Linked DNA regions of Homo sapiens. The protein of the gene in region 4 interacts with the protein of the main gene of each other region in a biochemical or structural test. Each region holds a gene or a part of one and is shown on either strand. Other genes may lie near its edges. The genes, in order: TXK, PLCG2, CRK, ERBB2, SHC2, FER and TNS3.

Evidence for each region.
Region 1: the proteins of ERBB2 (region 4) and TXK form a complex in vitro, tested with the Homo sapiens proteins (2 studies listed by BioGRID and IntAct, with this or other methods).
Region 2: the proteins of ERBB2 (region 4) and PLCG2 form a complex in vitro, tested with the Homo sapiens proteins (2 studies listed by BioGRID and IntAct, with this or other methods).
Region 3: the proteins of ERBB2 (region 4) and CRK form a complex in vitro, tested with the Homo sapiens proteins (2 studies listed by BioGRID and IntAct, with this or other methods).
Region 5: the proteins of ERBB2 (region 4) and SHC2 form a complex in vitro, tested with the Homo sapiens proteins (2 studies listed by BioGRID and IntAct, with this or other methods).
Region 6: the proteins of ERBB2 (region 4) and FER form a complex in vitro, tested with the Homo sapiens proteins (2 studies listed by BioGRID and IntAct, with this or other methods).
Region 7: the proteins of ERBB2 (region 4) and TNS3 form a complex in vitro, tested with the Homo sapiens proteins (2 studies listed by BioGRID and IntAct, with this or other methods).

What each region holds. Positions count from the first base shown.
Region 1 is NC_000004.12:48,109,786-48,113,997, reverse strand, and holds part of TXK (tyrosine-protein kinase TXK), read left to right. Parts: exon of another isoform or gene 1-256; coding exon of another isoform or gene 257-336; intron 337-688; coding exon 689-791; intron 792-1,485; coding exon 1,486-1,691; intron 1,692-3,394; coding exon 3,395-3,460; intron 3,461-3,468; exon of another isoform or gene 3,469-3,994; coding exon of another isoform or gene 3,995-4,017; intron 4,018-4,212. UniProt on the Homo sapiens protein: Non-receptor tyrosine kinase that plays a redundant role with ITK in regulation of the adaptive immune response. Regulates the development, function and differentiation of conventional T-cells and nonconventional NKT-cells.
Region 2 is NC_000016.10:81,960,042-81,963,701, reverse strand, and holds the end of PLCG2 (1-phosphatidylinositol 4,5-bisphosphate phosphodiesterase gamma-2), read right to left. Parts: 3' UTR 1,017-3,660; downstream 1-1,016. UniProt on the Homo sapiens protein: The production of the second messenger molecules diacylglycerol (DAG) and inositol 1,4,5-trisphosphate (IP3) is mediated by activated phosphatidylinositol-specific phospholipase C enzymes. It is a crucial enzyme in transmembrane signaling.
Region 3 is NC_000017.11:1,446,089-1,450,300, forward strand, and holds part of CRK (adapter molecule crk), read right to left. Parts: intron 1-4,212. UniProt on the Homo sapiens protein: Involved in cell branching and adhesion mediated by BCAR1-CRK-RAPGEF1 signaling and activation of RAP1.
Region 4 is NC_000017.11:39,710,020-39,714,231, reverse strand, and holds part of ERBB2 (receptor tyrosine-protein kinase erbB-2 isoform a precursor), read right to left. Parts: intron 4,147-4,212; coding exon 4,031-4,146; intron 3,893-4,030; coding exon 3,751-3,892; intron 2,305-3,750; coding exon 2,185-2,304; intron 1,911-2,184; coding exon 1,784-1,910; intron 1,080-1,783; coding exon of another isoform or gene 963-1,079; intron 1-962. UniProt on the Homo sapiens protein: Protein tyrosine kinase that is part of several cell surface receptor complexes, but that apparently needs a coreceptor for ligand binding. Essential component of a neuregulin-receptor complex, although neuregulins do not interact with it alone.
Region 5 is NC_000019.10:440,316-444,527, forward strand, and holds part of SHC2 (SHC-transforming protein 2), read right to left. Parts: intron 1,314-4,212; exon of another isoform or gene 770-1,313; intron 618-769; coding exon 547-617; intron 1-546. UniProt on the Homo sapiens protein: Signaling adapter that couples activated growth factor receptors to signaling pathway in neurons. Involved in the signal transduction pathways of neurotrophin-activated Trk receptors in cortical neurons.
Region 6 is NC_000005.10:108,753,912-108,758,123, reverse strand, and holds part of FER (tyrosine-protein kinase Fer), read right to left. Parts: intron 1-4,212. UniProt on the Homo sapiens protein: Tyrosine-protein kinase that acts downstream of cell surface receptors for growth factors and plays a role in the regulation of the actin cytoskeleton, microtubule assembly, lamellipodia formation, cell adhesion, cell migration and chemotaxis.
Region 7 is NC_000007.14:47,361,785-47,365,996, reverse strand, and holds part of TNS3 (tensin-3), read left to right. Parts: intron 1-4,212. UniProt on the Homo sapiens protein: May act as a protein phosphatase and/or a lipid phosphatase. Involved in the dissociation of the integrin-tensin-actin complex. EGF activates TNS4 and down-regulates TNS3 which results in capping the tail of ITGB1.

The DNA.
Region 1 (4,212 bases), on a different chromosome or scaffold from region 4:
AAACTACCGGTGTATCTTATACTTTGGTGGCAGTAAATGACTCTGTAAGAATTAAATCCAAGGCAGCATGTTAACAGAAAAAGCTAACATTTAACAGGAGCTTCCTGTATATCAGATACTATGCTAAAAGATTTATGTTTATTAACTCATACAGTTCTCAAAACCACCTACTTTTTTTTTTTATGATCCCCATTTTACAGATGAGGAAATTGAAGATTAGAGAGGTTACATTGCTTACCCAAGGCCACACTATGAAATGGTGGAGCTGGGATTCAAACTCTTGTTCCTAATCACTATACCATGTCTATTTATAACAAAAAGACACCATCAAATGAGGTAATGCATATAAAATGACAAACACTGAGCCAGATATGGAGTAAGTTTTCATTACAATGATTATAACTTTATGCCCTGAAGATGCACCAGACTCTACTGGGAATGTGACATGTTTTCTCAATTTTATTTTATAACAACTCTATGCTCTTAGCACCTCTAGTTCCTGGAGAAGGAAACTTAAGTTCTTAAAACCAGTAATTTGCCCAGGGAGATGGAGTTAGGAAGCCTTCTAAATGAAAATGGAGTTGGAAAGAGACCTGGATTTTTCTGCTATTTCTGTGAAAATCTAGTGGATGTATAGATAACTTTTGTACAAATAATTATTTGTAACATGATTGCTTTTCAATGTCAGACAAATGAGAACACAGATAAGCCTGAGCACAGATGAAGAGCTTCCAGAAAAATACACCCAGCGTCGCAGGCCGTGGCTCAGCCAATTGTCAAATAAGAAGCAAGTAAGTATCATTTTGACAGGCAAGAGGGGAATGGAGAAGGTTGTCTTTTTAGAGTCTTCATTCATGAGGTGCTGTTTGTTGCCCAGAATCTAGTATCCTGCTTGGCATAAAATAAGTGCTCAGTAATTTGTGAAGGAATGTTCTAGAAGAAAGTAAAAGGAAAAAGAAAAGACCAGTTAAAATAGGCTACTTATATTTAAAGGCAGAACTTGAAAATGGGCAATGAGTGGGAAAAAACATATTCTGGCTTCTGTCATTTTGAGGCTGAGATTAATTTTCACTTCAGTGAGAAACAGCATTCTTAGGAAGTATGGTAAACCCAAGCACAAACTGCCACCACATAAAAAGAAAAAGGCCATTTTTCTTCTTTTAAGGAGAAAAAAAATCCTTAAAACAAGGTAAAACTATTGAAGAGGAGTACATCATCTTTTGAAAATTTTGATATGAAAAAAAATCCAGTAAAATGCTGTCAAGAGAACTTGTGATCTCAAAAGTGTACAAAATGATGAGTGTATTGCTGGATCCTAAAGGAGTTTTATAGTTAGTCCTTTTCTACATTTATCTCATCCTGGCTTCTGCCTTGGTGTAGCTGGATAAGAAAAGTGAGGCAGAAGGCAAATATGCTTTGTCCCTATATTTTTTAGTACAAATTATTAAAATGATAGTAAAACAACTCACTTATTGGTTTTCACAGTCCAACACGGGCCGTGTGCAGCCGTCAAAACGAAAGCCACTGCCTCCCCTCCCACCCTCTGAGGTTGCTGAAGAGAAGATCCAAGTCAAGGCACTTTATGATTTTCTGCCCAGAGAACCCTGTAATTTAGCCTTAAGGAGAGCAGAAGAATACCTGATACTGGAGAAATACAATCCTCACTGGTGGAAGGCAAGAGACCGTTTGGGGTAAGACACTTACATGACTTAGTCAGTATCCAATTCTTCCAACACAAAGAAGACTACTTAGTGACTCAGGCTTATAACTCTTCCCTCTGCATGAAATGGAATCTGTCCCCTCTCCCCCAGGATGTGTGAGAGAATGAGAGAACAGTGATTTCAGGCAGAGTCTCAGAACCAGATACACCTGGCTTCACATCCTGATGCTGCCGCTTACTATTGTGTGTCCCCGGGCAAGTCACTTACCGTCTCTGAGTTTTTGTTTCTTTATTTGTACAATGGAAATAATAATTCTGACAATGTAGGTTCTTATTCTAATTTGTGCTTTCATTTGGGAATTTGTCAGTTTTTTCCTGTTAAGCTCTAAGGTAAGAACAGAAATAGTATTTTATTCACTTTTATGTTTCTAGAATGACTAGTTTTGAAAGCAAACATTGCAGTCGCTGCTGAATTAGATTAGAAAGAAAAAAGACCCTGGGATGCAGATAGGTTTCATTGTGCCAATTGCAACAGATGGTTAATGCCTGACTGGAGTCCTGAGTTGAGAAGAATTCTGAGGAATATCTGGACTTCCTGAGAGAGAAGGCTGGCATTGATTTCTGATATTTGCCAAGATTTGGAGATTTTAAGTATCTAAGTATTATAAGCATGTAAATTACATACCTCTCCAACTACATTTTCTCAATGATGTGGCTCTCTTAACAGTTCTCAACATGTGGTGGAGACTTTTCAGTGGAAAAAGAGGCATTAGTAGGTTCAGGACTGTGTAATTAGCCACACCTGCGGGTATACTATTGGCATGCCTCAGACTTAAAAATTGAATTTTTTATTTCACAGTAAGTGAATAGAGTTTTTAAAAATATATAATATGCAAACATTAATGTCAAAATTCTGCTTTGCCACTACCTCCAAACCCAAGTGTCTCCCCAAAAGTAAATACTATTATCCATTTTCAGATTATTTTCAGTATACTTACATGCACATATCAAAATATATGGTATTGTTTGTAGAATTCATTTACCTAAATCTTATCTTACTTTCTGCATGATTCTGCAACTTACTTTTATTTCTCAATAATATGTCTTGGAGATCTTTTTGTAATTTCAAATGTTGGTTAAGGTATAGGAAAAGTGAAACTTCTACCATGCTGATAGGTGTGTAAGTTGGTATATCCTCCTTTGAGGACAATTTGTTGCATATCCTGAAAGATGTACATATCCCGTGACTTAGCAATTCCCGTCTTTGCTATCTGTCTTTGAGAAATATTCTTCTGTACAAGAAGGCGTGTTCAAGGATTTCTTTACAGCGTTGCTTCTACTAGCAAAGTAGCTAAACTAGAATACCTATGCTATGGAATACTCCTCAGCAATTGAAAAGAATGAAGTCGATGTCTTTGTAATTGCTGTGTTTTTAACATAATCACTATGATATCAGATGATCATTTAAGTGCCCCTTTTTCTCTCTGAAAAGATTGTGGGGTCATAAAACCTCTTAAACTACTCACATTACAAGTTGGCATCTTAATACATTCCTTGTACAGAGATTTTTGTTGAGTTAGAAATAAAAAAACTTTTTTTTCTCCTTTTAACAATTTAATCAGTAAAATGAATTTGATTTCCCCCCTACATCCTTGAGGTTTTAAAAGGATTGTTGCCATGATAATGCCACAAACATGCCAAGCATTTTGATTTTTGCTTTTTCTTTTGTTGTAGGAATGAAGGCTTAATCCCAAGCAACTATGTGACTGAAAACAAAATAACTAATTTAGAAATATATGAGTAAGTCTTCTCCAAAATATAACCTATGAAAATCAGGGACATTTTGGCAGCTTGTAAGTATAGATACTGTTTTGGGTCTGTAGAAGGAAAAAAAAGTAACACATTTGACAGCGTTAATAATAAAGAGACGTTTGATCCTTATCATGGTTGATTCAGAAACTTCTTTTCCTTATACTTATTTTTGTTCTGTTTTGTATAGCCACTTTTTCTGTTTTAACAGTGACAGCCTGAACCCAAACACTCATCTGGCACTTATTTTACTATATATCTTAACTGGAAAATTTACTTTAAAAAATGACATTAAATTTTCAATGAGTGGTAAACTTAACCATATAGATAAAGTACTATATTTTGGCTTATGTTTTTATATGTTTTAGAAATAGCTGACGATAAGAACTAGGCTAATGCTGTAGTTTGGAAGAACTGTTTGGCATGTTCACTAGAGTTCCGCCTGAAATCTATTTTTGTTACAATTACAGATTTGGAAGATGGAGGAAATCTTAGCAATCACTTTTTTAGCCCCTCATTTTGCAGATGAGAAGACTGATAGATTACAGGTAGAGAACGGCCTGAGACTAGTCATATGTTTTTTATAAATTTAGATTTTCAGTTTGAGCATCTCCCCCTACCTTCATCCCACTTGGGCACTTATCTTAAAATTAGCATATGCTTCCACCAGGTGGCAGTAGGTAATATGCATTGAGGCATTAAGACAAGTGCTTCTCTGAGAACCAGGCAGCAAATACAATTGA
Region 2 (3,660 bases), on a different chromosome or scaffold from region 4:
TTAAGTAACCTTTCCCTACGCCGATGTTGTGAAGACCTTCTAGAAATATTGTTTTATCTTTCATATTTTGATCTATAATCTAACTGACTTGATTTTTGTGTGTGGAGTAAGATAGGAGTCAGATTTCACATCCATCAGCGATGCTGAAATAAATTTAATAGATATAAAACTGGTAAAACCAGTGATCAGTATCCACAAGGGAATGATCAATGGAATCTCCACAGGACACAGTTTGCATTTCTACGGACAGGAATAATTTGCATTATTCGGACAATAAAACGTGGAGAAACCGTATAAAATCAGATAATCTGGATAGCGGATAACCTATACTGTATGTATATATATTGTTCTCTGCATTCTCCTTTAAACAAGCTGGAACATCTCACTGGTTCCTTTGTTAATTAATAAGATTTCTGACATATGTTCATTATATATCTTTATGAGAGTTATGGTTGTATCCATTTAAAAAGTGGTCATTTGGCAGTTCTAATTTCATCTTTGCTTTTTACTATTCCTTGCTCATCTTCTAATGCAGAGGTTTGTCATAGGCTATTATTAAATCTTTGGACCAGGGTAACTAATCCAACCACTGGGGGCTGGGGGTTGGGGGTCAGAGGTATGAGATACAACATGGCTTCCTGTGGACCAGGGATTGTTGGCAAGAAACGCAGTGATTGACAGTTCTAGGGAGCCTATCACTCAGCTGAGAAATACAGGGACTTACTATAAGGTCCTCGCTCCTTCCAACACTAAACATTCTTTCAAAACTGATAAATTGAAGAGCACTCAAGTATTAATCGTACAAACTTGAGTTTCAACACAGAGTGAGTTTTTGCTGAAGATAAACCTGTAACCCAAAGAAACGTGGGATAAATAGGATAGTAAAACACATTTCAAAAAATAACTGTAACTCTACCTATCTCATGACTAAATTATTGTATGTGTGTGTGTGTTTTATTTGGGAATATAAAAGGTGAATAGCAGTTTTTAAAAAAAGTTCTGGGCAGATTGCTATATTCATTCAGATGAAACTTTTATTTTTCAAAATGTGATACAGCTGTTTAATTTTCACATTAACAACAGCCAACATCTGTGTGACTCATTCACTTAATTCTCTATGTACACAAAGCACATACTATTTATATAAAAAATAAATTAAGCTTTAATAATGAAACACAAGTTTACAAATGCAGCTTCTTAAGGCCTAATGAAAAATAAGAAATGTGGAAATTTCTGAGAGGCAGGATCACTGGAATCTGGCTCTTCAAAAAGAAAATATTTTGAAAATTAAAAACCAGGGACAAATTATTGAGTATTTTTAAATGCCAATTTTCTAATTCTGTATAATTCCAAATCTAATTATTAACTTTTTGTTGGTTAGAAGATAGCTTTTACGGTTGGGTTCAAAAAGTTAAATGTCACACAGGTTGAAGGTTAAGCTATTTTCCTTTTAAAGTCAAAAGGGTTGAGGTCCTTTTTAGCCATCCTTTTTGCTTCCAAATACAATTCATCACTTAGTGGCCCTAGATCAGCAATCTTGAGAGCTTGTTTGGAGGTTCCAGCAGGGGAGCGCAGCTACTCGTATACCCTTGACCGAAGACCGGTCCTCCTCTATCGGGGTTGGTCGTCCTCTTCGACGGAGCGCGCAGCTTCGGGAGGGACGCACATGGAGCGGTGAGGTAGGAAGGGGACACCCACCTAGCCAGCCAGATCAGCCGAATCAACCCTGGCGATCAATGGGGTGACAGATGTCGCAGCCAGATCGCCCTCACATCCGATCAGCAATCTTAACATTTTATGCTCAGATACTCTTAAGTGAATTTTGAAAATCTCTATCTTCTTGCACATTGCTATATTGACATCTAAAATTTCTCATTATAAATAGCTGCAAAGTGCTGGCATACCGTAGACACTACATGTTTAAATAAAACTGTTGTATTACTTTTTAAATTTAGCCCAGGAGGTTCTTAATATAAGTTATTTGATAGATACTATGATCTTTTTAAAAATTTTATGAACAGGGCCATTTTTTTATGATCAGTCTTACCTGGAACAAGGCAATTTTTAGTAGCAAGGAATGCCCCACTTTTCCTTTTACTCCTTGAATTTGTATTTTCATACCACTTCTCCCTCAAAATTTTAGCCTAATAAATTTTTGATTTTTATGTTATTTAATTCTATCTCTGTACCAAAAGTATTATATAGTATCCTATAATCCTAAGGCTGTAAGCCTTTAAAATTTTCCTCTGGATTGAGCTGAATCAATAAACACATAGCCCAAATTTCACTAAATTATTAAACATAGTAAAACTTCTTTGGAAATGTATCACTTAATGAGATAAAGAGGGCTTTTCTCCACAATTATTTCATCTATGTAGATTGATAACATCTTAAGATTGAGCCAAAGTTCATCATCAATTCTATTTTCCGTTTTCAATTTCATTTATGGAGATGTTGATCCTTGTTCACACAGATACATCAATGGGAACGGAAGCTTTATGATAGCAGAATCACTGAATTCTTCCAACCCCTTTGTAGTTACATGCTAAGAGACTCAGAAATCTACAGGCTGTTCCTCCCACTTTGTTGAAAGCAAAAAATTTGGAACCACCAGAAAAACTTGGAAAATCCATTTGCAAAAAGATTTGTGCCCTGTTGATAAGTCTTTCACTTTCCAAATATCCACATTTTGAATTTTTACACCTTGGGACATGCTCTACAGTAAGACTAGAGGTGGAGACAGCCATATTTTCTTTTGTAAGGTGAGAAAAGGGCATTTTCTCAGGCAGATGAATCTTAGAGAAGAATATAACAGGAAGATGAGGCTCTGAACACTGCTCCCCTGAGAGTACTGGAGTCTGTGTATTCCTTGGAAAGCTCTGGTATACTCCCAGGGGTAAGGCTAGCTTAATCTAAAGGCCACTGGCCATGGCGACTTAAGTTTAGATTTTAACTAGGTCACAAAGCATACGAAGTATTAGAACATGTTGTCCGGCTGCCTTCTTAATAGAGCAGTAGGTCTTCAAATGTGTTCCACTATAGATAAGTCCCATGAGACACTTCTGGCAAAAAGATTCTGAGATCGAATTTGGAAAACAAGACCCTCTACACCTTTCACTCCTGCACATCTAGTCTCACAGTAGAAAAACTTTATTTAGTTTTTATAACCTAAGTTTCCCAAACTCACAAGGCCTAACCAGCCTCCCCACTTTATTTTTCCTTGTAATAACCAATATTCTAAATAACACACTTAGGAAAATGGTGAACAAAAACAGTGTAATACATATGCAGTGGTGGTTTTGATCTATCAGTGCTGCTTCCATCTTTCAGAATGTGCCTGTTACTAGTCTTCTTGGCCTGGATTGGCTGTGCTTTAACAGTCATGTAGGAAGCATGTCTCAGCTAGATACTGAAGTTATGTAGCATCACATAGACTCTGGGAAGAGCCATCATACCATGTGTGCCTTTCCTGAGAGAATCAGTCCCTAACACCACCAAGAACCAGATTAACGTGTTACTCTGTCAAGGACAGGAGGAAAGAACCGAAGAAAGTACTCTCTCATGGTGGATTCCGGTTGTAGCACCAGGAGAAGGAGACAGTTTTAGGCAGAGGGTTCTTCCCAGCACCATTTATGTCATAATCCCCTGACTTCTCTTTGG
Region 3 (4,212 bases), about 38 Mb from region 4:
TGAAGTGATGGAAAGAAGCTAAGCACAATGCCTTCCTAGACTGGAGAAGCTCAGAGAAGTTCACAGCATTGTTGGAGATAACACAGCAAGCACAGTGTGGCTGGTGAACAAGGAGAAAGCGGCACGTCTTAGGAAGACAACCTCCCACCCGGCTTTCACCTTCACCTGGATCTATGTTCCTGCTAAAGACAGTTGGAATAACGCACTGTGTCCTGAGATACAACAGAATCGCCATGAGCAACTACGACCATCTGTGAACACTTCCAAGGTACTCTCTCCACTGGAAGAAGGAAGGTAACCACCCCCTGCCAGCCACTGTTACCATAGCAGGCCGAGCGAAATACATTTTGGCGGGGAAAGAACAAATGAGACTACTAAGCCAAGTCGCTCTGAAAGATGAGTGAGAGAAAACTTGGCAGATCATCTGGCGCAAAGGTAGGAAGCAGGTTTAATTCTCTTCTTGGTCAAATGCCACAATAGCGTGAACTGGGCTCACTATGACTTTTTTTTTTTTTTTTTTTGAGGCGGAGTCTCGCTCTTTCGCCTAGGCTGGACTGCAGTGGCGCCATCTCGGCTCACTGCAAGCTCCGCTTCCTGGGTTCACGCCATTCTCCTGCCTCAGCCTCCCGAGCAGCTGGGACTACAGGTGCCCGCCACCACGCCCGGGTTTTTTTTTCTGTATTTCTAGTAGAGACGGGGTTTCACCGTGTTAACCAGGATGGTCTCGATCTCCTGACCTCGTGATCCGCCCGCCTCGGCCTCCCAAAGTGCTGGGATTACAGGCGTGAGCCACCACGCCCGGCCGTGACTTTCTTTTTGTTTGGCAATCCCAATAGACACAGAAACGTAAGCAAAACGCCACGGAAAACCTTTGATGTACTTTACTTATAAATTATTTTTCTATTCTGACACTGTAATAATTTCACAGAGAAATGCCCGTTTCTGTGAACTGCTGGGGGCCATCAAGCTTCATTGATCCAAACTCCAGAAGGAAGGGAGGAGAACAGAACACACATAAGTCCCAGATAAGCCCAAACCTCACCATGGCTGTGTGTTCCGGCTCCTTTTCTCTCTTTCCTCTCCTTCCAACCACAAACAGCCAAAGGCAGGAAATAGAAGGGCGGGAAAGGAAGGAGGCACAGTCAGCCAGTCTAGAGAACAGAAGCAACGACAGGATTCTCATAGCTATCTGGGACTTGGAAAACCTCAATGACTTGTTCTACATCACCCTGTGCTGGATTCTGAACGTGGAGTTAGGAAGTCACACAAACGGAAATCAAAATCAATGCAAGGAGAGGATATCCTTTCAGCTTCTCGGTACCTGCTCAGCCCGTTACTTCTAAGCCTTCCAAGCATTTCAAGCCTCAGGTTACGACCATTTTTACAAGGCCACTCCCTCCCTGAAGGTTTCATGAAGAACACCTGAGGGCTCTGTGGGCTAAAATAGGCCCAATCACTTCTGACGGGTCTACAAGAGCGGGCCAGGCTCTCCTTGATCTCACAGCACTTTCTCTTTTCCTTTTTTTTTTTTTTTTTTTGAGACGGAGTCTCCCTCTGTTGCCCAGGCTGGAGTACAGTGGTGCGATCTCAGCTCACTGCAACCTCTGCCTCCTGCCTCCTGGGTTCAAGCAATTCTCCCTTCCTTAGCCTCTCGAGTAGCTGGGATTACAGGCGCCCACCACCACACCTGGCTAATTCTTGTATTTTTAGGAAAGACAGGGTTTTGCCATGTTGGCCAGGCTGGTCTCGAACTCCTGACCTCAAGTGATCAGCCAGCCTCAGCCTCCCAAAGTGCTGGGATTACAGGCGCGAGCCACCACACCCGGCCCTCTTTTCCCTTTTTTCCTCAATTCTTGCTCCCTCCCTTCCTTCTCTGCCTGTGGTATTTACAGGGGTTGCTTAGATAAATACCCACCAATACAAAACGCTAAAAAGGCCACTGGCTCGGGAGGCTGAGGCAGGAGAATCGCTTGAACCCGGGAGGCGGAACTTGCAGTGAGCAGAGATCGCGCCACTGCACTCCAGCCTGGGCGACAGAAGGCCACTGGTTTCCATCTGAGAAGATATATGGTCTCCTAAGCAAATAGAATGTTCTAAAGATGGTGGGTATGAGGACGGTCCTTTGCAGGTTTGGTGCATTGTGGCTCTCATTTTCTAGCTGTCTGAGTTACCTAACTTCTGTGTGCCTCACCCCCGACTCTGCAAAATGGGGTCAAATACCTATCTAATAAATAAAGTTCCTAAAGTGGCTAGAGGCTGGGCGTGGGGGTTCACGCCTGTAATCCCAGTACTTTGGGTGGCAGAGCCAGGCAAATCACTGAGGTCAGGAGTTCAAGACCAGCCTGATCAACATGGTGAAACCCATCTCTACTAAAAATGCAAAAATTAGCTGGGCATGGTGGTGCACGCCTGTAGTCCCAGCTGCTGGGGAGGCTGAGGCAGGAGAACTGCCTGAACCTGGGAGGCAGAGCTTGCAGTGAGCCGAGAATATGCCATTGCACTCCAGCCTGGGTGAGAGCAAGACTCCATCTCAAAAAAAAAAAAAAAAAAAAAAGAAAAAGTGGCTCGTACATTATAGGTGCTCAATAAAAAGCAACCAATTCTCCAAATTCCTTCAGCAATTTTCAATTCATCCTCAAATCCAGAGCCCACTGGACCGTTTCCCAGAGAAAATTCCACAGGATCTCAAGATGCTTCTCAAAAGTTCTGTGGTCAGGCAGGTGCGGTGGCTCACACCTGTAATCTCAGCACTTTGGGAGGCTGAGGCAGGAGGATCTCTTTATTTTTTTCTCTATTTTTAAAAACTGATTAACCAATCTTTAGGGAGACATCTGTTGAGGCCAGGAGTGCAAGCCCAGCCTGGGTCATACAGTGAGGCTGTAGTGAGCTATGACGGAGCCACTGCACACCAGCCTGAGCAACAGGGCCATCAGCAGTCTCACGCTACCTCCAGAAGTGGCTTGGCCCAGCTGCCAGCCTGGCATGTAGCTCTTCACTACCTCGAGGGAGTATCACAAACTATTACCACCCTAGCTTCTGTCCCACGCCTTCAAAATGAAGCACGTTTTATGCCCCCCTCCACCCACTAGCGCAACAGGTCGGATGAGCAGGTAACAGGAGGCACCATCTTATTTCCAAGTGCTGGACCCGAGGTCCTTTCACACTTACGGATGCACTCCACCCAGGCACCTACTCCCCAAGACAAACTGTTTCACCAGTTCCTACCATCCACAGCATGAATTCCACAGCCTCTCAAAGATAAGAAGTTTTCCATTTTGCTTCAAAAGCCCCCACACCTCAGTTATGTTATTAAGATTCGTATACATGAAATGCTTATGGAGTACTTAGTATGCCAGTACTGAATATGGAGTATCATTCCAACAACCCTATGAGATCAGTATTACTATTTCCCTCCTTCACAGATGAGGAAACTGAAGCAGGGAAAAGTTAAACAATTTGCCCAAAGTTACACAAGCAGTAAGTGGTAGGTAAATAAGGCCCAACCCAGGATCCACAGCTCAAGCTTATAACGACTCTCCTAACTCACACTCCTTCAGCTGTGTCAACCTGAAAGGTTTAGCTGTTCAAGAGAAAAAAAACTAGTTTCTTGCAAGCATTCCAAGGAGGTCCATCTTGAAGCCCAACCTGACAGAATGTGACCAGTAGACTTGGCCAAGCCCTTCCTTATGGCCCCAGGGAACTCCCAAGCTATGGCACCACAGGAAGCCTATGCAAGCTGAGGACCCAAGACAAGTTAAAAACAGGTTCAACGGAAAAGGCTGAGAATCACTGGCCCATTCTGTACCCATGCCTTTAAAAATAATACCCAGCTGCGCACGGTGGCTCACGCCTGTAATCCTAACACTTTGGGAGGTCAAGGCAGGTGGATTACTTGAGGTCAGGAGATCGAGACCAGCCTGGCCAACATGGTGAAACCCCCATCTCTACTAAAAATACAAAAAAATTAGCTGGGAGTGGTGGCGCATGCCTGTAATCCCAGCTACCTACTCAAGAGGCTGAGGCAGGAGAATGGCTTGACCCGGGAGGGGGAGGTTGCAGTGAGCTGAGATCGTCCCACTGCACTCCAGCCTGGGCAACAGAGCAAGACTCTGTCTCAAAACATAAATAAAGTTTAAAAAATAAGGCGCGGTGGCTCAGGCCTGTAATCCCAGCACTTTGGGAGGCCAAGGTGGGCGGATCACGAGGTCAGGA
Region 4 (4,212 bases):
TACAGAAACCAACCTCCCCACCAAAACGACGAAAACCACACTTCACTGTGTGTGTGTCTACAGATGCATAAACGGTCTAGGTGAACACACACACTGTTAACCATGGCCCCCTCTGGAAAGGGGAGTGGAGGTAAAGGAAGTGTGAAAGGGAATTTTTTTTTTTTTTTTTTTTTTGAGACAGGGTCTCATTCTGTCACCCAGGCTGGAGTACAGTGACATGATTTCAACCCACTGCAACCTCCACCTCCCAGGCTCAGGTGATTCTCCCACCTCAGTCTCCCTAGTAGCTGAGACTACAGGTGCGTACCACCATGCCCGGCTAATTTTTTGTGTTTTTTTGTAGAGATGGGATCTCACTATGTTGCCCACGCTGTTCTTGAATTCCTGGGCTCAAGCAATCTTCCTGCTTCAGCCTCCCAAAGTGCTGGGATTACAGGTGTGCACCACGGCGCCTGACCCTTTTTTTTTTTTTTCTTTTTGAGACAGGGTCTCACTCTGTCGCCCAGGCTGGAGTGCAATAGCGAAATCTCAGCTCACTACAACCTCCACCTCCCGAGTTCATGCAATTCTCCTGCCTCAGCCTCCCAAGTAGCTGGGATGATAGGCGCATGCCAGGAAGCCTGGCTAATTTTTTATATTTTTTAGTAGAGATGGGGTTTCACCATGTTGGCCAGGCTGGTCTTGAACTCCTGACCTCAAGTGATCTGCCTGCCTCGGCCTCCCAAAGTGCTGGGATTACAGGCGTGAGCCACCGTGCCTGGCCCCAATTCATTTCTTATTGAAGTATAACTTATATACAATAAAATGCACCGGGTGTGGTGGCTCATGCCTGTAATCCCAGCACTTTGGGAGGCTGAGGTGGGCGGATCACGACGTCAAGAGATCGAGACCATCCTTGCCAACATGGTGAAACCCCATCTCTATTAAAAATACAAAAATTAGCTGGGCATGGTGGCACACACCTGTAGTCCCAGCTACTCAGGAGACTGAGGCAGGAGAATTGCTTGAATCCAGGAGGCAGAGGTTGCAGTGAGCCAAGATCGTACCACTGCACTCCAGCCTGCTGACAGAGTGAGACTCTATCTCAAAAAATAAAATGAAATAAATAAAATGCACAGACTCTTATCACACAGTTTGATGAGTTTTGACAAATGGATTCGCTCATGTATCCACTACCCCAATCACTATACAGAGCATTTCTATTACCCCAGAAATGTCCTTGTGTGCCTCCCTTTTGAAGCCCCCCACCCTGGGGCAACCACCGTTCTGATCTCTCCCACCACAGAGTGGTTTTTTCGGTTCAGAGCCTCACATAAAGGGGATCAGACAGTATGGAATCTTGTCTCTGGCTTCTTTTGCTCAATGTAATGTTTCTGAGATTCATTTATGTTGTATCGGTAGTTCATTTCCTTTGGTTGCTAAGTAGAACTTCACCAAATGGATACACTGCCACTTGTTTATTCCTTCACCTAGTGATGCACATTTGAGTTATTTCCAATTTGGGGATATTTTGAATAAAGCTGCTATGAACTCAAAGGGAATTTTACTTTATCTAGATGGTCTGACCTCCATACAAGTCCTTGTTCACGGATAGCATGTCATTTACAAAAATAATCACCCCCACCCACCAAAGGCCCTGCTCCTCTGGTCTCCCATCTGCTTTCTTTGCATTCTTGATCCCCCCACTTCTGTCTCCTGCCATCCCCAAGAGATGCTGCCACATCTGGATCCTCAGGACTCTGTCTGCCCTGACACTGTCTCAGGTCATCGTGCCCACTCTTACCCATCAAAGCTCTCCGGCAGAAATGCCAGGCTCCCAAAGATCTTCTTGCAGCCAGCAAACTCCTGGATATTGGCACTGGTAACTGCCCTCACCTCTCGCAAGTGCTCCATGCCCAGACCATAGCACACTGAGGAGGTGGGGGTGGGTGGGGAAGGGGCCGTCTCAGCCTTCATACCGGGACAGGTCAACAGCCACATGAGCATCAGGGTCCGGGCCCCTCCCCACACTGACAGGGGATATAGGGACACTTGTAGGGCTGAGGGGGGCCAGGGGTAGAGAGTAGAAGGCAGAGACTAGGTCCCAAGAGGGTCTGAGGAAGGATAGGACAGGGTGGGCTGGGCCAGGCTGCATGCGCAGAGGGACAGGAACTGCAGCTGGCCTCGGGGGCAGTGAGTGGGTACCTCGGGCACAGGGCTTGCTGCACTTCTCACACCGCTGTGTTCCATCCTCTGCTGTCACCTCTTGGTTGTGCAGGGGGCAGACGAGGGTGCAGGATCCCACGTCCGTAGAAAGGTAGTTGTCTAAGGAGATCAGGAACATGTAGCCACATACCCTGGCCCTTCGTGCACCACCATGAGCAGCATTACCGTGCCCAGGCACAAGAAGAATAATATCAACCAATACTTAAATGCCCTACCACGCATCAGCACCTGACATCCATTTACCCCTCACAACAACCAGACGGGATCAGCACTGTGAGATTCCCATTTTGCAAAAAGGGAGACCAAAGCAGAGAGTTCTGTAAATTATTCAAGGTCATTGTGCTAGTGAGTGGAGGAGCGAGGATTTGAACCCAAATGGTCTGGCTCTACATTTTGTCCTCTCCCTAACACAGTCAGCCAGGATCTGAAGGCCCACTCCTGTTCCTGTGAGAGGAGGAAAGAGGTTCCCCAGGTCTGAGCCCAGTCCATAAACGCCCATCAGTAAATAGGTGATCTGTTAAATAAAACTGAGCTAGGCCAGGCACGATGGCTCATGCCTGTAATCCCAGCACTTTGGGAGACCAAGGCGGGTGGATCACTTGAGGTCAGGAGTTCGAGACCAGCTTGGCCAACATAGTGAAACTCCGTCTCTACTAAAAATACAAAAATTACCCAGCCATGGTGGTGCATGCCTGTAGTTCCACCTACTCAAGAGTCTGAGGCACAAGAATTGCTTGAATGCGGAAGGCAGAGGTTGCAGTGAGCCAAAATTGCACCACTGCACTCCAGCCTGGGCAATGGAGCGAGACTCTGCCAAAAAAAAAAAAGTCCGGGTGCAGTGGCTCACGCCTGTAATCCCAGCACTTTCAGAGGCCGAGGCAGGTGGATCGCCTGAAGTCAGGAGTTCGAGACCAGTCTGGCCAACGTGGTGAAACCCTGTCTCTACTAAAAATACAAAATTTAGCGAGGCATGGTGGTGGGCGCCTGTAATCCCAGCTACTCAGGAGGCTGAGACACGAGAATAGCACGAACCTGGGAGGCGGAGGTTGCAGTGAGCCGAGATCGCGCCACTGCGATAGAGCTAACTAAATTCGGTCTCAAAAACAAAACGAAAGGTAAAACTGACCTCACCAGGCTATAGAATAAAAGCTAACATTTAGGAGCACTTAGTACATACCAGGCACCGTTCTAAGAGCTTTACAAATATTAACTCTTTCAAATGTTATAACCATCTTATGCAGTTGGGACTATTCTTGCCCCCATTTTACTGATGAGGAAACTGAGGCACAGCAAGAGGGTCACGTGCCTACTAATTGATAGAGCTGGGTTTCAAACCCAGGCAGTCTGGCTCCCAAGTCTGGGCTCTTAGCTGCCTCTCCTTACTGCCACCTGCTCCACAGCTGTTGAAAGAACAAGGCAGCTCGGCAGGAACTGTCATGACCAGCTCTCAAAGCAAGATGCAGACAGTGCTCCCCATATGCTCCCATTTACAGAAACAAACCTCCCCACCAAAATGAGAAAACTGTGTTTCTCCCTGGCACTCACAGGGACAGGCAGTCACACAGCTGGCGCCGAATGTATACCGGCCCTCGGGATTGGGCATGGACTCAAACGTGTCTGTGTTGTAGGTGACCAGGGCTGGGCAGTGCAGCTCACAGATGCCACTGTGGTTGAAGTGGAGGCAGGCCTGGGGGGACAGGTGGCTGGCTTTCACTGTGCTGTTTTGCCCTGGTGTGCCAGGGGCAATAGGGCAGTACCAGGCAGGGTGCCCACCCCTTGCATCCTGGGGGGTAGAGCACATTGGGCACAAAGCAGAGGCACATACCAGGCAGTCAGAGTGCTTGGGGCCCGTGCAGCCGGCAGCACACTGCTCATGGCAGCAGTCAGTGGGCAGTGGCCCCTTGCAGCGGGCACAGCCACCGGCACAGACAGTGCGCGTCACTGTTGGGCAAAGGGCAGGATGAGGGCTGAGTGGCGCCCTGGGCACCAGACCCTCATCAGCATCAC
Region 5 (4,212 bases), on a different chromosome or scaffold from region 4:
TAAAGTCTCAAACTGTACATTATATCTCACATACGCACGTGTAAACTGTCTCACATGGTTTTTTTAAGTCTATACGAATGGAATCAACCAGTTTTCACAGAAAAAAAGGGTGTCGCTCTCTTCCCTGCTTAAGCCCTGGCCATATCCACAGCCCCTGTGATTGCTTTCCAGACACCGCATAGCATCCTGAGGTCACCGTGTGGAAAACAGAGCAGGGACACGGAGACGCCACTGGGCCCCGGTCCCAGAGGGAACCCGCCAGGCCCTGCACCCCACGCCGTGCGGGGACTTGCCCAGCACCCTGTGAGCGACCGGCGTGTTCTTTCCATCTTAGAGGATCGAGGTCTGCAGGGCACGGTGACCGACACCTGGCGTGGGGACAGGGCGGAGACGTGGCGTGAAGTGGGAGGGAGGTGGGGGGCACCGAGGCTGCGTCCTGGGACCCCAGCGCGGCTGTCGGAGAGCCCATCGCTGCCGCCCTCCAGTGCTGCCGCCCTCCAGTGCGTCACTCAGCCCTACGCGGCCAGGGCAGGGTTGGAGGCTCACCTGGTCACCTGCGTGCGCGTGTTAAAGTCCAGGGAGCGCATAGAGCGGAGAACCTCGATGCAGCCCATGTACTGAGGGGAGAGAACAGGTGTCAGATGCCATCGGAACCCCCGCAGTGGAGCCACGTCCCTTTTCCCAGCAGCCCTTCGCCGCCTCCACCACCCCTGGGGTCGAGCCCTTTCCTCTGTCCCTGGTGGCTCTGGGGCCGTCGTGCCTCCCCCACCTCAAGGCCCAGCCTTGACACTGTCCTGCGAGCCGCCCCCTCTGACTCCAGGCATGTTTTTCTGTGTTGCTGTTTCTCAGGAGCCTGGTGGTTCCCCCAGACGCTCTATGCTGCTTGTTCATTTAACCGTCTTGCCCTCGTCGGTCTCTTTCTGTTCCACCAGCACCGAAGCCGAGGAGCGTGGGGATGGTGCGATCCTGAGCACTTCCCTATCTCCAGCGCCCAGTTCAGGGTCTGGCAAACAGTGGGGCAGACGTCCAGGGCAGCCACAGATGCACACACTGCTGGCCTCGCCCTCCACAGGAAGTTTGCGGGCTTCTGGCCCAGACAGCTGTTTCCATGAAAAGGGAATTCACCATCTCAATGACTGATAATACTGAGGGACGAGAGGGGCAGAGGCGTCCCACCGAGTCCCTGACCTGCTTCAGTGCCGTAAAGGGTGGGGGAACAGGGCCAGGAGGCGAAGGCCACAGCGTCCTTCCAACGTTGGCCCTTGCTGGAGGGAGGGTAAGGGGCACAGCCCACGTCATCTCTATGAAATGTCCTACAGAGGCAGCAAGAGCATGTGTGGGTGCCAGGAGCCGGGGAATGAAGGCTGACACGAACAGGTTTCCTACTGGGGTCATGAGAAATTCTGGAATTAGACAGAAGGGGTGGTGGCACGATATTATGAATGTACGAAATGCTACTGAACTGTGAAAAATGCAACATGCAAAATGATGAATAACGTTATGTGAAGTCCACCTCAGTTTCTTTAAATGATCAACACGCAAACACTTTGACCCTGCAGCTCCATTTTTAGGACTTTACCCCACAGATACATCAGCCTGAGGGCTTCTGAGGTGTGTACAGGTCACTGTGTGGGCCGGCCCAGGCTCTGCCCCTCTCCACGGCTCCATGTACCTGGAGCAGGGAGAGCAAGGAGCAGAGACAGATGTGAGAATGCAGGCAGGAAGCAGAGGCCACAGGACCTGGGCTGTGATGACGGGCAGGGGCTCATCCTGGGCCAGCTGGGGAGCCAGGGAGCACTTAAGCAGGGCATGGACTAAGCAGCCTCACCTCCTGTTGAATGGATGCATGATGGGTGGATGGACTGACAGAAAGATGGCAGGTGGATGGATGAATGAAAGAATGGATGGAAGATGAATAGATGGGTGGGTGAGTGGGTGAACGGATGGATGATGGGTGAGTGGATGATGGATGGATGGGTAGATGGATGGACAGGCAGATGGACAATGAATGGATGGGTGGGTGGATGGATGGAGGGTGGAAGGATGGATGGATGGGTGGGTGGGTAGATGAGTAGATGAGTGGATGGGTGGATGGATGGATGGACAGATGGATGGATGGGCGGGTGGATGGATGGATGGATGAATGGGTGGGTGGATGGGTGGGTGGATGGGTGGATGGATGGATGGACGGATGGATGGATGGATGGGTGGGTGGATGGATGGGTGGGTGGGTGGATGGGTGGGTGGGTGGACGGATGGCTGGATGGATGGGTGGGTGGATGGACGGGTGGGTGGGTGGGTGGATGAGTGAATGGGTGGATGGATGGATGGGTGGATGGATGGGTGGGTGGATGAGTGGATGGGTGGATGGGTGGGTGGACGGGTGGACGGATGGCTGGATGGATGGGTGGGTGGATGGACGGGTGGGTGGGTGGGTGGATGAGTGGATGGGTGGATGGATGGATGGATGGGTGGATGGATGGGTGGGTGGATGAGTGGATGGGTGGATGGGTGGGTGGATGGGTGGACGGGTGGACGGATGGATGGGTGGGTGGATAGATGAGTGGATGGGTGGGTGGATGAATGGATGGATGGACGGGTGGGTGGATGGGTGGATGGATGGGTGGGTGAATGGATGGATGGACGGGTGGGTGGATGGGTGGATGGATGGATGCATGGGTGGGTGGATGGATGGATGAATGGGTGGGTGGGTGGATGAATGGATGGATGGACGGGTGGGTGGATGAGTGGATGGGTGGGTGGATGGATGGAGGGTGGATGGATGGACAGATGGGTGGTTGGATGGGTGGACAGATGGGTAGATGGGTGGGTGGATGAATGGATGGATGGATGGGTGGGTAGATGAGTGCATGGGTGGATGGGTGGGTAGATGAGTGGATGGGTGAATGGATGGACAGATGGATAGTTGGATGGGTGGACAGATGGATGGATGGGTGGGTGGATGAATAGGTGCATGGATGGGTGGGTGGATGAGTGGATGGGTGGATGGATGGATGGGTGGATGGATGTGTAGGTGGATGGGTGGATGGACGGATGGATGGATGGGTGGGTGGATGAATGGATGGATGGACGGGTGAGTGGATGGGTGGGTGGATGGATGGACAGATGGATGGTTGGATGGGTGGACAGATGGGTGGATGAATGGATGGATGGATGGGTGGGTGGATGAGTGGATGGGTGGATGGATGGACAGATGGATGGATGGGTGGATGGATGTGTAGGTGGATGGGTGGATGGACGGGTGGGTGGATGAATGGATGGATGGACGGGTGAGTGGATGGGTGGGTGGATGGATGGACAGATGGATGGTTGGATGGGTGGACAGATGGGTGGATGAATGGATGGATGGATGGGTGGGTGGATGAATGGATGGATGGACGGGTGAGTGGATGGGTGGGTGGATGGATGGACGGATGGTTGGATGGGTGGACAGATGGGTGGATGGATGGATGGATGGGTGGGTGGATGAATAGGTGGATGGATGGGTGGGTGGATGAGTGCATGGGTGGATGGATGGACGGATGGATGGGTGGATGGATGTGTAGGTGGATGGGTGGGTGGATGGATGGATGGGTGGGTGGATGGATGGATGGATGGACGGGTGAATGGATGGGTGGGTGGATGGAGGGTGGATGGATGGACGGATGGTTGGATGGATGGACAGATGGATGGATGGGTGGATGGATGTGTAGGTGGATGGGTGGATGGACGGATGGATGGATGGGTGGGTGGATGGGTGGATGGATGGAGGGTGGATGGATGGACAGGTGGATGGTTGGATGGGTGGACAGATGGGTGGATTGGTGGGTGGATGAATGGATGGATGGATGGGTGGGTGGATGAGTAGATGGATGAATGGATGAACAGATGAATGGACTCTAGGCATGTAGTAGACAGGTCATACCTAAAGGAATTAGCCATGGTCCCTGTCCCTAGCACTGGATTCTCCCACTGAGGAGGCAGCTTTGGTGGGATGCTGGCTGCTCAATGGCTGTCTTCTCTCAGGCAGAGCATGTGCCTCTGGGATGATGTCTGTGCCAGTGTCTGGCGCTACAGGGCCATAGGGTGAGGGATTCTCATTCCCTTACCTGCCCCCTTATTAACACGTAGCCCACTCCGGTTGTGCGGCTGAAACCCTGAACTGTGTGGTCCATGGGTCCCGTTGTGGGGACACCAGCCTAGTGCACGGGG
Region 6 (4,212 bases), on a different chromosome or scaffold from region 4:
TGCAACAGCTTGCCTCTTGTCTAGCATAGAACATTTCTACATTATTTTTATAATGTAGATTGAAGGCCATGTCTATCTCTTCACCATCTTCATCCTCTTTCAAAATCCATGATATTAGTGTATATAATAGCAAGTATCTCCAAGCTAAGACATTTAGATCTTAGAATGCCAGTTCCAGACACAGGGTAAACCAGGCTCCAAAATACAGAAAAGAAATCAGAAACTTAAAACAGGCAACCACCAAGGTAAGGTCTAGCTCCTATATTTGTTATGATTAATTGTGAAATAGTCACCATAGCAAACCCCTATTATCCCAGAAGTTAGGACACTGTTGTTTATGTTAACATTTTAAGATATTTGTCAGAACTATATTAACTTCTAGAAAGTAGTAGCTGTTAATAAACAAATTCCTTTCAAATATTATTGTTGAGGGTGCGACAGAAGGGATGGAGGACAGGATTTATGAACGTAAGATTCCTGACATTTTCAAGAAGTCTGTCTAAAGACCATGAGAATTTTTGACAGAGCTGGAACACTCAATGAAAATGTTTCACAAATTAACTTTTTTTTACCTCTAAGGCATGGAGGATTGATGTGCGTCAAGATCAAAGACTCACTGAATTCAACATTCCATTGTTAAATTTATTCAAAAATGTCTGTTTTCTAGCTAAGATCCACCACCTTCTCAGGCCTCTTTATTCTCTCTCCACTTCTAGCAGCTGGCTTTCTTTTTCAGGAAATTTTTTTACAAAGAAACATGTTATAACTTCACAGAAGTTATAGTTTAGGACAATCTCAAACAGAACAAAGCCAAAGCAAGATATAGACACAAGACTGTTAGCCAGGAGCATGAATATCTTAGGGTCTTGCTTCTAATGAGAGGAAGTAATCTCAGCAAAACTGCAAATATTTCAACATAGACCTTTAGAGTTGCTCCCAAATAGCTGAAACTTCTATTAAATCCAGGACCATTAATAGTTTACTACAGACTTTTACCATTTACATTTATTTCAGGTTTAGAGTATGAAACACCCAAGTTCAAATCCCAGTATCATTTTATAACTGGGTCTCCTTGGATAAATGATATGACCTAAAATTGGTTCCAGATCACAAAAAGAACATGCAAGCCATCAAATTCATAAATTCAAAAGAAATGTACAAAAGTGCATCACACTTTTAGCAGGCACTAAAGAAATGTTAGTGCCCCCACCATTATATCTGAAGCCATGTAATTTACTAAAAGACTTAAGACTTATATTGACAGAAACTGTCTCTACCTGGGAGGTTAAAATGTTGAGGAGGGGAGAAAAAAGAACTATACAAAAACAAAACAAAAAATGTGTGTGTGTGTAGGAGAAAGAAATTGGCTTCTTCCTTTGTAAAATTTTCTATTGTATATAAATCTACATAAAGATTCTCATACATCATCCCCAACATAAATGCTTGTAAATAATTGAAATACTGATCTATCATTAATTATATAGTATATTAATAAGTTATATTGACCTATAATTAATTACATATTACCATTATATGTTATCATTAATAATTATCTGAAACAACTACATTGTTTAGTTCCCCTTAATTACTCTCCTATAGCAAATTTATTAAATATATTAAAAGTAAACAGGCATCACAAAGTAATGGTACTTAGCCAAATACATAAATTTGGAGTAGATTCAGAATGGTCAGGAAATGCGATAGTGACTGGATTTTCCATATTACAAAGTCCATCACACACTTCTATACTGAAACAAAGAAAAAAGGTGATACCTGAAAATGTTTCCTTTGCTCCTAGTAAAGCAAAGTTTCTAAAACCTTAGTGAAAATTTAAGTAATGGTTAACCTATATAAGAACGTACATAGAAAGCATGTAATTCTAAAAGAAAAATAATTCAAGAGAAAGTCAAGACACTGTATATTTTCTTTTTATTGTATTTATTATTATTATTTTTTTTTTTTTTTTTGAGATGGAGTTTCTCGCTCTTGTCACCCAGGCTGGAGTGCAATGGCATGGTCTCGGCTCACCGCAACCTCCACCTCCCGTGTTCAAGCAATTCTCCTGCCTCAGTCTCCCAAGTAGCTGGGATTACAGGTGCGTGCCATCACACCCAGCTAATTTTTGTATTTTTTTAGTAAAGACAGGGTTTCACCATGTTGGCCAGGCTGGTCTCAAACTCCTGACCTCAGGTGATCCACCCACCTCGGCCTCCCAAAGTGCTGGGATTACAGGTGTGACCCACAGTGCCCGGCTGATACTGTATATTTTCATAAAACAAGATGTGGTATAGCTGCTAGGGTGGCTACTGACCCATTTGTTATCAAAACTGAACACTGCAGCCAGCCACTGTGGCTCATGCCTGTAATCCCAGCACTTTGGGAGGCCAAGGCGGGTGGATCACCTGAGGTCAGGAGTTTGTGACAAGCCTGACTAACATGGTGAAACCCCATCTCTACTAAATACAAAAAAATTAGCCGGGCGTGGTGGTGCATGCCTGTAATCCCAGCTACTCGGGAGGCTGAGGCAGGAGAATTGCTTGAACCCGGGAGGTGGAGGTTGCGGTGAGCCGAGATTGTGCCATTGCACTTCAGCCTGGGCAACAAGAGTGGAATTCTGTCTCAAAAAACAACAACAAAAAAACCCTGAACACTGCTAGAAGAGTCAAATGCACTTTTCTTTGTAGAATGTGAAATTAACAAGGGAGCCCCATCAATCCACGGAAGCTTGGGAAAGTCTCCCAAGCTGAAGACATCCAGAGAAAGGACACATACTACAGAAGTGTTCAACTCCAAGGAGAAAACATCCAAGAAACAGAAGCATACAGAAAAGCATTACAGCGACCAAGGACTAAACCTTGTGACAACGCAGCAAGCTTTGTGATTAAGCCAGAAATGCTCTTTTATTCTGCAAACTATAGGATACAAGGGGCAAGAATAAGAACCTTGCCTGTATACAAATAATGTAATGCAAAGTTGTCTAGTCTTCATTTCAGAAGCAAAAAAATTAATAGCTTTAATGACTCGAGTCCTCCTTACCGGATTGTACGGGTCTGAAGGGATCACTTAAACTTTTCCATTAAATTTGACTGCATTTTATGGAGGTGGTTATATCCTAGATTCACAAAGGTTTCAGGAAATACCACTTGCAAATATCAAAGGTCTACTAAGTCTTCACTTGGAACTGTATATTATACGTGGTACTTCCACATAGGATGAGTGATTTAAAATTAAGCTCTATTCATGGTAATGCAAAGATACTTTTCTGACTGAGCCAATGTAAAGAGCATTTTTACATTCTAAGTGCCTAGAAAATAAAAATTCTAGTACTGTTTCCACTTCTCTTAAAACCATGAGTCCCAATATAGAAATAGCCTTTTTGCAAGCAAAATGATTTACACTAGAAAACTAATTTCAATTTTTGTACAACAATTAGTGTTATTCCAGTCACAATACAGACTGAGGTACTGTTACCTAAATATTTTTACATGTTCATTAAGTTATTCTAACTTTTAAATATAGGTCTCTATTAATGACATAAAATTAGTGTAATAATATTTTCTTATGTAGCATTATAAGAATGATAAGAAAAACTAAAGGGGCATTCACTTCAGGAAAATGTGGAAATAACTTGGGTCCCTTACAGAATTGTAAGGTATGTCTTCAGTACTTGTTACTAACAATACTTACACACTATTTTTTTTTTTTTTTTTTTTTTTTGAGACAGGGACTCACTCTGTTGCCCAGGCCGAAGCACAGTGCTGCAATCATAGCTCAATGCAGTATTGAACTCCTGGGCTCAAGGAATCCTCCTGCCTTAGCCACCTTAGTAGTAGTACAAGCACATGCCATCATATCGGGCTAATTTTTTAACTTTTTTGTAGAGTGCCGTCTCGTTATGTTACCCAGGCTGCTCTCAAACTTCTAGGCTCAAGTGATCCTCTCGTTTCAGCCTCCCAAAATACTGTGATTACAGGCATGAGCCACTGCACCCAGCCCACATTTTTTAATGACTCACTTTCTCCAATAAATCAGAGTAGATTCAAGTTTATACCCATAATGATGTCACTCTCAATCATCTGCATTCTAATATGCTTTCTTGAATAGGAGAGAGACTGAATTAGAGCTCGCATGCTAGAAAACTGCACAGTGGAATATGTCATACATGTAAATATCTTGTACCTGGACGGGAAAAAATATAAGAAAACTGACTTG
Region 7 (4,212 bases), on a different chromosome or scaffold from region 4:
CATACTTAGGTTAACATATAGTAGTCTCTTGGCTTAGGTTAACATATAGTAGTCTCTTGAGGTTAATATGTCTTCCAATTGATTGAATTCAATCCTTAGTGATTCCCTGTTCTTGCTGCAAAGAAACAGTTATAAGGCCTGGAATTTTCGAAAGCCACATCATATTATCCACCCTCAGTTTGGCTGTTTTTAAATTACTTGGTAAACTCATTACTTTATTTTTTTATTTATTTTTTTGAGACAGAGTCTCACTCTGTCGCCCAAGCTGGAGTGCAATGGCGTGATCTCAGCTTACTGCAAGCTCCACCTCCCGGGTTCGCACCATTCTCCTGCCTCAACCCAGTAGCTGGGACTACAGGCGCCCGCCATCACGCCCGGCTAATTTTTTTGTATTTTTAGTAGAGATGGAGTTTCACCATGTTAGCCAAGAAGGTCTCGATCTCCTGACCTTGTGATCCGCCCCCCTCGGCTTCCCAAAGTGCTGGGATTACAGGCATGAGCCGTTGCTCCCAGCCAAACTCGTTACTTTGAGAACACTTTTTTTTTTTTTTTGAGATGGAGTCTTGCTCTGTCGCCCAGGCTGGAGTGCAGTGGCACAATCTTGGCTCACTGCAACCTCCGCCTCCTGGGTTCAAATGATTCTCTTGGCTCAGCCTCCCGAGTAGCTGGGACTACAGGCGTGCACCTCCATGCCTGGTTAATTTTTGTATTTTTAGTAGAGATGGGGTTTCACCATATTGGCCAAGGTGGTCTTGAACTCCCGACCTCACGATCTGCCCACCTTGGCCTCCCAAAGTGCTGGGATTACAGGCATGAGCCACCGCGCCCAGCCCAATAACACATTTTGATTTTGATTTTAGATACTCTTTAATGCGTTTTATTATAAAAGTTATTTAATTATCATTTTGAAGTCTAAGGACTTTCATATCTCAACAACAGACCAGTAAAATTCAGTGCATATTTGGGTATTGACAATACAAATTTAAAGTATTTATTAATCTATTCATATTTGACAGGCATCTGGGGCCATTGGTCCATTTTTTTCATAGCTTCAGAACTAAAAAGATGTCAGAAGATTAGGTATAAGCAAAACTGGTTACCAGTCTCCCCAGAGCTTTTTAAAATTGGGAAGTGACCTTCTTGTAGGAACCCTGCCACACATGAGCAACTGTCCATGAGCAGTGATGAATGGACACTGAAGGGTTAGCCGCAGCATTGGAAACAGGGCAGAGTGAGCCATGCCCTTCCTGGGAGCTCCGCTTCCTCTTCCAGGACGTGCCTCTTGTGCTAGGTAAGCACCAAGCTGGGAGATGGAGCAAGCCTTGAGACTTGCACTTCATTTAGTGTCAAAAGCCTGCACAGTGTAGAGGTGGTCTCTGAACAGCCTGCATGGCAGGCTTTTGGATCTCAGTCCAAGACTTTCTGACCTGATAGAAATCCCATTAAAAGATGCTTACTGGGCCGAGGCAGGCAGATCACCTGAGGTCAGGAGTTCAAGACCAGCCTGGCCAACATGGCAAAACCCTGTCTCTACAAAGTTACAAAAATTGGTCAGGCATGGTGGTGCATGCCTGTAATTCCAGCTTCTTGGGAGGCTGAGGCAGGAGAATCACTTGAACCCAGGAGGCAGAGATTGCAGTGAACTGAGACCGTGCACTGCACTCCAGCCTGGGTGACAGAGCAAGCACTCTGGCCCAAAAAAAAAAAAAAAAAAAAAAATTATTGCTTACTTCTGTAGCTCTCAGGCACTGCAGCTAAGCAAGGAAGGAATTGTTTCTTCCCTCACTAGCAGGTATAGAAAACACTGGAACTCTTTTGATTTTAAAATTTAAATTTCAGTATTGACATTTCTCAATAGGAAATGGCTACTTTGGCAAGCGGCAGAAAACAAAAATTACTAGATCCTAGCAGGGACACGCGTACAAGTGTGGTAGCAAAGCAGCTAGTTCCGAGTCCCTGGGACATCGTCAGAAGGTTGGGGATGCTGCTGGAGTGCCTGCACTTTGAAGGTGTCCTAGATCCCTCAATCCATATCCGTCTCCTCAGCCAGCCAAAGGAGACCAGGGCTGTTGAGCTGGAGCCCTCCTCTTTCAGCTTAGATCCATGTGTGAATAGGAAGGATTCTGGCACGTCCAAAAGGCTCATGACATGCCCAGAATGGTACCATCACCTAACCCTGCAAGGGGCATCATTTCCACATCTGTGTGCATGAGGTTCAGCCCCATAGATAGTGTGGCATTGCCTGACTGACTGGAGACTACCTTGAGTCTCGCTCACAAGGGGAAACCATAGACTGGAAGTTCTGAGAGCACTATGTCTACATGAGCCCCTTCTTGCTGGCCTGCCTTCCATCTCATCCCTGGACACAAACTGCTACACAACTTTCTTAATTCTGACTGTGGATGAAGGTTTGTCACAGAGACCTCAGCATCCTGAAGTTACCAGAATCTTTCACTATTTGCAGATTATGTCCTCATTATGAGAAAGACCACCACTTGTGGTAGAGAGTTGGGAATAGCATTGCCCTGTGCTCCTCCGGGGGACTTCTGTGCATCCTGCATTATTTATGAGATGAAAATTATATGTGAAGGCTAAGTATTTCCTGAGAAAGTCTTTCATACCAGCACCATAATAATAATAGTGGTGCTGCTGCTGATGGTGGTGATGATCACAGTGATGGTGATGGTGATGATGATGGTGATGGTGATGATGGTAATGACTGTGATGATATTGATGGTGGTGATGGATATGGTGGTGGTGTTGATTGTAATGATGGTGATGTTGATGGTGGTGATGATGTTGATGTTGATGGTGATGACCCTTATGATGGTGATGACTGATGATGATGATGGTGATGATGACAGTGATGATGGTGATGATGATGATGATGATGATGGTGATGACTGTGATATTGATGGTGGTGATGGTGGATGATGACGGTGATGGTGGTGATGATGTTGATGGTGATGGTGATGACCCTGATGATGGTGATGACTGTGATGATGTTGGTGATGGTGATGGTAAATGACTCTGATGATGGTGGTGATGTTGATGGTGGTGATGATGTTAATGGTGGTAATGGTGATGTTGATGGTGGTGATGGTGATGGTGATGACTGTGATGATGTTGATGGTGGTAATGGTGATGGTGATGATGACAGTGATGATGGTTATGACTGTGATGATGGTGATGATGCTGATGGTGGTGATGATGCTTTGGTGATAGTGATGATGACGGTGATGACTGTGATGATAGTGATGATGTTTATGGTGGTGTTAGTGATGGTGATGTTGATGATGTTGGTAATAGTAAGAACTGTTACTCTGAGTGCCTACACTGTTTTAGGTACCTTCATTTCACCAGGACACGTAACAGAGCTCTCGTCTCTCTGACTCTGCACCCCATGGCTATGTCCTAATTCCACTAAACTCACACTCTTACACCAGCCAGTAAACCTGTTGAGGGAAGTGCTCATTATTTTTTTTCCCTGGCATGCAGGAAGAGTTCGACATATGTTTGCAAATACAGGGGTCTGGGACAGGCGGAACTGCAAATGATCCTTTTGAGACCTGAACTACTCTGCTGAATGGGCACTGAGGGGAGATTTATCGCTGGACAGTGTAGAGTAGCCCTGCCCACCTACAAGATCAGAGAGAGGCCCTCCAGAGGTGGGGTATCACAAAGCTCTGGTGGCTGAGACCTGGGTGCTCTGTGTGCCAGTGAGCACAGTTTTGTATCCTTCTTGTAGAATGGGTGAGATTCAGGGAGTTGGTTTGGGGACATTTTACTCCCCACAAGTGCCTGCCAGCCATGAGGCCCTGCTCCCTCACTCTGGTCTGACTTCTGCTGCCACTGGTGTTTTGTGGAAGAGCCCCTGGGTGCTGCTGCCAGGCTCATTGTCCCCGCCCCACTCTGGGTCTCAGCCTGGTTTCAGCCTGCACGTGGTGGGTTTTTTGTATCATACCCTTTTAAGTGGGAGAATATTTCAACTGATGATATCCCAGTAACAAAAGAAATGACTCAACCTGTGAAATTCATGATTCCGTGGGTGGCAAAAAGCCAGTTCTGTGGTTTTTTTTCATACCTTGAGGGCTCTTTGCTTCATGTTGTCAAAATATTTTATTCATGTTACATCAACCTCCACCCTGTGATGACAGCAACCTGGCAGGCCCTGTTCTGCTTGCAGATAGTGCTGTGGCATTCCCACCAGGC